Regions from separate parts of the Homo sapiens genome. Here region 1 is linked to region 2. Evidence: fine-mapped QTL for protein levels in blood plasma. A gene starts in region 2. The other region holds a variant in brackets. All regions are shown on one strand. Distances are between the middles of the regions.

Region 1 (2,893 bases), 80 kb before region 2:
ACGAAGGGCCTGGGGTCCCCACCCTGACCTGCTGCCTCCCTACTCGCGGAGAAGCTGTGTGGCCTGGGGCAGCTCACTACACCTCTCTGGGCCCCAAATGCCGTCCAGTGTCCACAAGCAGGATGAACGTGAGGTCTACACCAACTGCGTCTTGAGAGGTCGGGGTGAAATTCCGTGATGGAGGAGGGGGCCCTGCATCTGAGGGGCCACACCCTCAGTGGCAGGGGTGCCTGGTCAGGGCTGCAGGGGCAGGAAGGGCTTCTCTGGGTTCCAGGCCACGTGGAGCCTGGATTCTGGGGGGTGGGCGGTGGGGAGAGAGCAGCTCTCGCCGGGGGACTGGGGGCAGGAATGGAAGACCTGGCTGGAGGGTTAGACGCTGCCCAGAGGGCGATGCCCGAGGCTACCAGCTGCACCCACGCCCTCAGTGTCTGTGAGCCACACAGGCGTAGTGCACAGTGAGGCTGTGTGCAGCCTATGTGTGCATGTTTGCCTGCGTGCGTGTGTGCACGTTTGTGTGTGTGCATGTTTGCCTGCGTGCGTGTGTGCACGTTTGTGTGTGTGCATGTTTGCCTGCGTGCGTGTGTGCATCTATTTTTGCTTGTGTGGATGTTTGCCTGTGTGTGTGCACGTTTGTGTGTGTGCATGTTTGCGTGCATGTGTGCACGTGTTTGCCTGTGTTCATTTGCCTACGTGCGTGTGTGCACGTGTTTGCCTGTGTTCATGTTTGCCTGAGTGCATGTGTGTTTGCCTGTGTGCCTGTTTGCCTGCGTGCGTATGTACACGTTTGCCTGTGTGCACGTCTGCACGTGTGTTTGCCTGTGTGCATATTTGTCTGTGTGTGTGCACATCTGCATGTACATGGGTCCTGTCATTGCTGCCCGTCTCCTCCCGAGAGCTTTCTCTGCACGTTGGCCCTGCCTTTGCAGCTTCTGCCAGCCCCGTGGCGCCGAGTGGCCTTCTTCCCAGCCCCAGTGGGCGCAGTGGGGTGGGCCGTCCTCTGAGGGCACCCGAGCTGCTGCATCTCCCGTCTTCCCGCATGCAGTCCTCAGGGCACCTGTCCATGAGCCCCATTCACAGGAGCAGTCCCCAAGGCACCTGTCCCACCTGGGCCACCCTTGGCCCTGCGTCCGTAGCCAGAGCTTGGAGGGCTTTGTCCACCAGGCCTGGGACCCTGGGATCCTTCCTCAGAGTCCCCCGGCGTGGGGGCAGTGTGGAGGGTGGCGCGGGTGGAGGGTGGCCCGGGTGGCGGGGTGAATTCCTGGGGAGAGCCTGCCCCCTGGCGGCCACCTGGGAGAATGCAGGGAACATGGCTGAGCAGCGTCGGCTGTGGAGGGAGGGCAGGGGCAGGGGTCAGGGCTGCAGGCGTGTCCCTGGGGCTGATAGCGGTGGGATGG[G/A]GTCTGGCCAGTGGAGGGTCCATGGGGTCTCCTAGCAAACGCAGTGGCGCTCCTTAAATGACGGTGCCAGGCGGGGCTGTTCTCCTTGGTTGGCCTCTGTGTCCCTTCAGGCTCCCAAGGCCCCTCCTCACATCCTCCCTCGAGGGCAACAAGCTGAGGCCCCCTGGGGTCGGCGGTCCCATCTGCTGGGACACCCGCGCTGCCCGACAGCTTGCAGGAGCCGGGCCTGACCCTGGCCAGTGAGACCATCTCCCTCAGGGACAAGGTGGTCTTTTCAATCCTTCCATCCCAGCGGTCTCACAGTTAGGGGCCCTGGTGAGGGAGAGGAGTTACGACTCCCACCACCACCTCAGGCGGTGGGTGAGATGCTCTGAGGCTGGCCTGGCTCACACCGTGTTGGCAGGAAGCCTGACCCCCGCTCTGTTCCCACCCCCACCTCAGTCCTGTTTTTTTAAAAAATACCCACTTTACTGAGATGTGATTTGCATACTGTACTCTCTGAAGTGTGCAGTGAGTGACTTTTAGTACATTTGCAGAGTTGTGTGGGGACATCTGTGGTTGCCACAACTGGGAGGTGCTCCTGGCATGGAGTGGGTGGAGGCCAGGAATGCTGCTCAGCACCCTGCTGTGCCCAGGGTGGCCCCACCCCAAAGAACGGTCCAGCCCCAGTGTCCACAGCACCTGGGGGAGACCCTGGAATTAGAGGGCTGGAGCTGCCCAATCCTCTTGCCCTTCCTGAGGAGGCAGAGGTCTCCACCTTGGAGTGAGCGCTTCTGGGTGTCCAGTGTGGGACACTGAGGGGCCCCAGCCAGCCCGCCAGGCGCCCACGGGTGAGGGGCCTCCTGCTGCACCCCGGAGTCGCCTGGACCTGCCCCCTGCCCTGTGCACCCCTGCTGGGCCCAACGACTAAACCTTTCTTCCCAGGGTTTCAGAGCGTGCCCTGTCCCGGTGGGCGTGCTCCTTAGGGAGTTAACGCTTCCTGCTTCCTCTTCCCAGGTTCTGTCCATGACGGCACAGCCGGGCCCTGGCCATGGGAAGAAGTTGGGCCATCGAGGTGTGGACGCATCCGGCGAAACCACCTACAAGAAGGTTCCTCGGCTCCCCTTAGCTGGCTGGAGGGAGCGGGACAGAGCAGAGGGGAGGGGGATCCCACTGGTAGCATGGATGGGGCCTATCGCCCCCGACACAAACCAGGGTCTGCCCAGGGACAGGTGTGGGCTGTGTGGAGGCAGAGGCTGGAGTCCTCAGTCCTGCATGAGGCCCCACTGTTTGCTGTCCTTGCCGGGCGGCCGGGCAGCATGTTCTGTGGCTCAGCCTGGCTGCAACGCCTGCCCGGCTCTGAGTCCCTGAAACCTCGGGCAGAGCCTGGGCTCTCGGCCCTGGTGAGGGAGAGGGGTTATGGACCCCACCACCACCTCGGGCAGTGGATGGGACACTCTGAGGCTGGCCTGGCTCACACCGTGTTGGTAGGAAGCCTGACCCCCACTCTGTTCCCACCC
Region 2 (2,893 bases):
GGTGCACCTAGAACCTTCCAGCCCGTCCCATCCCCGACCCTCCTCCACCCCAGGCATCCGTAGAACGCACTTCGGGAAGAGCTCCCGCCAGCCCACCCGCCTCACCGAAGGCCCTCTTGGGCTGCACCAGGCGCAGGGTGAAGGGCTGGGACTTGGGCAGCTCCCGGAGCATCTTGGCCACCTCGTAGTGGCGGCAGCCCACAATGGAGTGGTCGTTGATGGCTTCGATGCTGTCACCCACGCACACTGCCTCGATCCGGTTGATGATACTGCCTTCCTTGATTCTCTGCAGGGATCCAGCGTCGCTGGCAGGGCAACCCCAGCCACCCGCCTCCAATCCGCAGAACCCACGTCGACCCAGAGTGGGGGGGGCAGTTGCTGGACCCCAGGAAGCCACCCGCCCACCCCCTCCCGGGCACCTTGATGAAGGCGTAGCCAGCCCCGTTGTCCGTGATGGTCAGCCCCAGAGCATCCTCTGTCTTAGTGACCTCCACCTCCTTGGTCTCGCCTCGCACGTGGGCAAAGATGAAGTCCTCCAGGCCTATCTGACCCCCCAGGAGCTTCTGCATGTCCACTTTGTGGCTGTTGAGGGTGCAGAATAAAATCTTCCCGGGGGAGAAGGAGCCTAGAGTTAGCCAGGGCATGCATCCCCCCACGCAGCCACCCTGTCTGCGCAGGCCCCTGCCCCCAGCGACCAGGATCCCAGCCCATGGGAAAGGGCAGGGCGTGGGACCCCCAGAACAGAGAGAGGAGGGAGAAGGAGACTTCCAGCAGGTGGAGACCCCTCTCCATACCCCGGGACCTCCAGCCCCCAGACCTCCAGGTTTAATCTGCTGGCGCCCCCTGGGGGCTGCAAACCAAACGAACCCGGATTGGAAAAACGCCCAGGAACCCCCCAACCCCACGGCGGCCTCAAACTTCCCATCCCTAAGGGGGCCATCTGGAACCCCAGACCCCAGCTACGCCCAGGAAGCACAGAGGCGCTTCCCCGAGGGCTGGGGTCCGCTCCAAGCTAGGTCTGCGCAGAGGATTTTCTGGAATATCTAGGGGTCCGCTAGTCCTAAGACCTGCCCATCTTTTGCGCAGAGCGTGCAAAGGGGGCCCCTGGGAGTGTGGCACCCCGGGATCTGAGGGCTGGGTCTCTGAGATCCGGCGATTAGGCGGCCACCCCGACGTCTGGGATCCGGGGATCTGGGGTCTCCCGTCCAGGGTCCAAGCTCCCTACCCCTCACCCCATCAGGCGGGTGGTCTTGGGCGCCGGTGTCCGGGCTCCTTACCTCGGTGGGCGCGATCCCGAAGGCTTCGGCGATCTTGGCGTACAGCTCGCGGACGTTGGTGAAGCCCTCGATCTTGCCCGTGGGGCTCCCGTGCGCCAGCTGCGTGCGGAAGACGAGGCGCGGGCGGGCGCGGGGCGCGGCCGGGGGCTCCGAGGGCGCGGGCGGGGGCGCAGACGCGCGCGGGGTCTCGGTCCCCCGGGCCTCCCGGGCCGCTGCTCCCTCCATGGCGGGAGAAGTTCGGCCACCCACCCGGGCCCTCGCCGCCGCCGCCGGATCCGCCGCTTCCTGCAGCCTCCCCTCCCCCGGCCCAGGGCGCGACAGCCGAGACGCCCGGGTAAGGGGATCTGGGAACCCGAGCCTCCCGGGAAGGCGACACCGCGGGGTGCGCAGGGGTGGGTCGGGCCCCAGGTGTCCGGGCCCTGCCAGGGCCAGCTGTGCCCTCCCCGGGGATACCCGCAGTCCGGGGGGGCCTGAGCTCAGGACCCTGGAAGAACAGGGACCACAAATAAGGACAGGGACAGGCCTGGAGCGGTGGCTCACGTCTGTAATTCCAGCACTTTGGGAGGCCGAAGCGGGCAGATGACCTGAGGTCAGGAGTTCAAGACTAGCCTGGCCAACATGGTGAAACCCCGTCTCTACCAAAAATACAAAAATCAGCCGGACGTGGTGGCGGGCGCCTGTAATCCCAGCTACTCGGGAGGCTGAGATCTCTTGAACCCGGGAGGCGGAGGTGGCAGTGAGCTGAGATGGCGCCATTACACTCCAGCCTGGGCAACAAAGCGAGACTCCGTCGCAAAAAAAAAAAAAAAAAAAAAAAAAAGGACAGGGACAGCTGAGGGTGCTGGAGCACTCACCCTCTGCTAGGCGAGGTCATTGTTTTATTTTATTTTATTATTTTTATTTATTTATTTATTTTGAGCTGGAGTCTCGCTCTGTCACCCAGTTTGGAGTTCAGTGGCACGATCTCAGCTCACTGCAACCTCTGCCCACCAGGTTCAAGCAATTCTCATGCCTCGGCCTCCCCAGTAGCTGGGATTACAGGCATATACCACCATGCCCGGCTAATTTTTTTGTATTTTTAATAGAGATGAGGTTTCACCATGTTGGCCAGGATGGTCTTGAACTCCTGACCTCAGGAATCCACCCACCTTAGCCTCCAAAAAAGCTGGGATTACAGGCATGAGCCACCACGCCCAGCCTTTGGTTTGTTTGTTTGATTTTGGAGACGGAGTCTAGCTCTGTCGCCCAGGCTGGAGTGCAATGGCGTGATCTCGGCTCACTGCAACCTCCACCTCCTGGGTTCAAGCGATTCTCCTGCCTCAGCCCCCCTAGTAGCTGGGATTATAGGCGCACACCACCATGCCTGGCTAATTTTTGTATTTTTTAGTAGAGACAGGGTTTCACCATGTTGGTCAGGCTTGTCTCGAACCCCTGACCTCAGGTGATCCACCTGCCTTGGCCTCCCAAAGTGCTGGGATTACAGGCGTGAACCACCGCACCCGGCCGCATTCAGTTTTTTAAAATTTAATTTAGAAACATGATTAATTTTTTGTACAGTTGGGATCTCACTGTGTTGCCCAGGCTGGTCTCAAACTCAAGACCAGGAGGTTCAGGCC

Direction of the effects. Positions count from the first base shown, and alleles are read on the strand shown. Strength reflects both the effect of a copy and how common the allele is.
For the plasma level of the protein whose gene starts at base 1,622 in region 2, A is the high allele of the variant in region 1 and G is the other (weak association).

What was found. PIP is the chance, under the fine-mapping model, that this variant and not a neighbour inherited with it causes the effect. Protein levels are from antibody-based Olink assays in UK Biobank. Linkage for the fine-mapping came from a reference panel and not from the study's own genotypes, which makes the PIPs less certain.
Region 1: its variant is fine-mapped to the plasma level of the GIPC3 protein (UK Biobank, PIP above 0.99).

What each region holds. Positions count from the first base shown.
Region 1 is chr19:3,664,412-3,667,304 of GRCh38, reverse strand. PIP5K1C (phosphatidylinositol-4-phosphate 5-kinase type 1 gamma) reads left to right here. Exons shown (of 18, transcript NM_012398.3): 3 at 2,391-2,483. Among named protein-coding and RNA genes, the nearest start is that of PIP5K1C, 35 kb to the left of the region's middle. RefSeq lists a silencer at 1,169-1,278 and an enhancer at 1,208-2,038. The variant G/A (reference allele first, on the strand shown) is at 1,395.
Region 2 is chr19:3,584,207-3,587,099 of GRCh38, reverse strand. GIPC3 (GIPC PDZ domain containing family member 3) reads right to left here and starts at 1,622. Exons shown (of 6, transcript NM_133261.3): 1 at 1,278-1,622; 2 at 420-605; 3 at 106-286. The coding sequence starts at 1,502.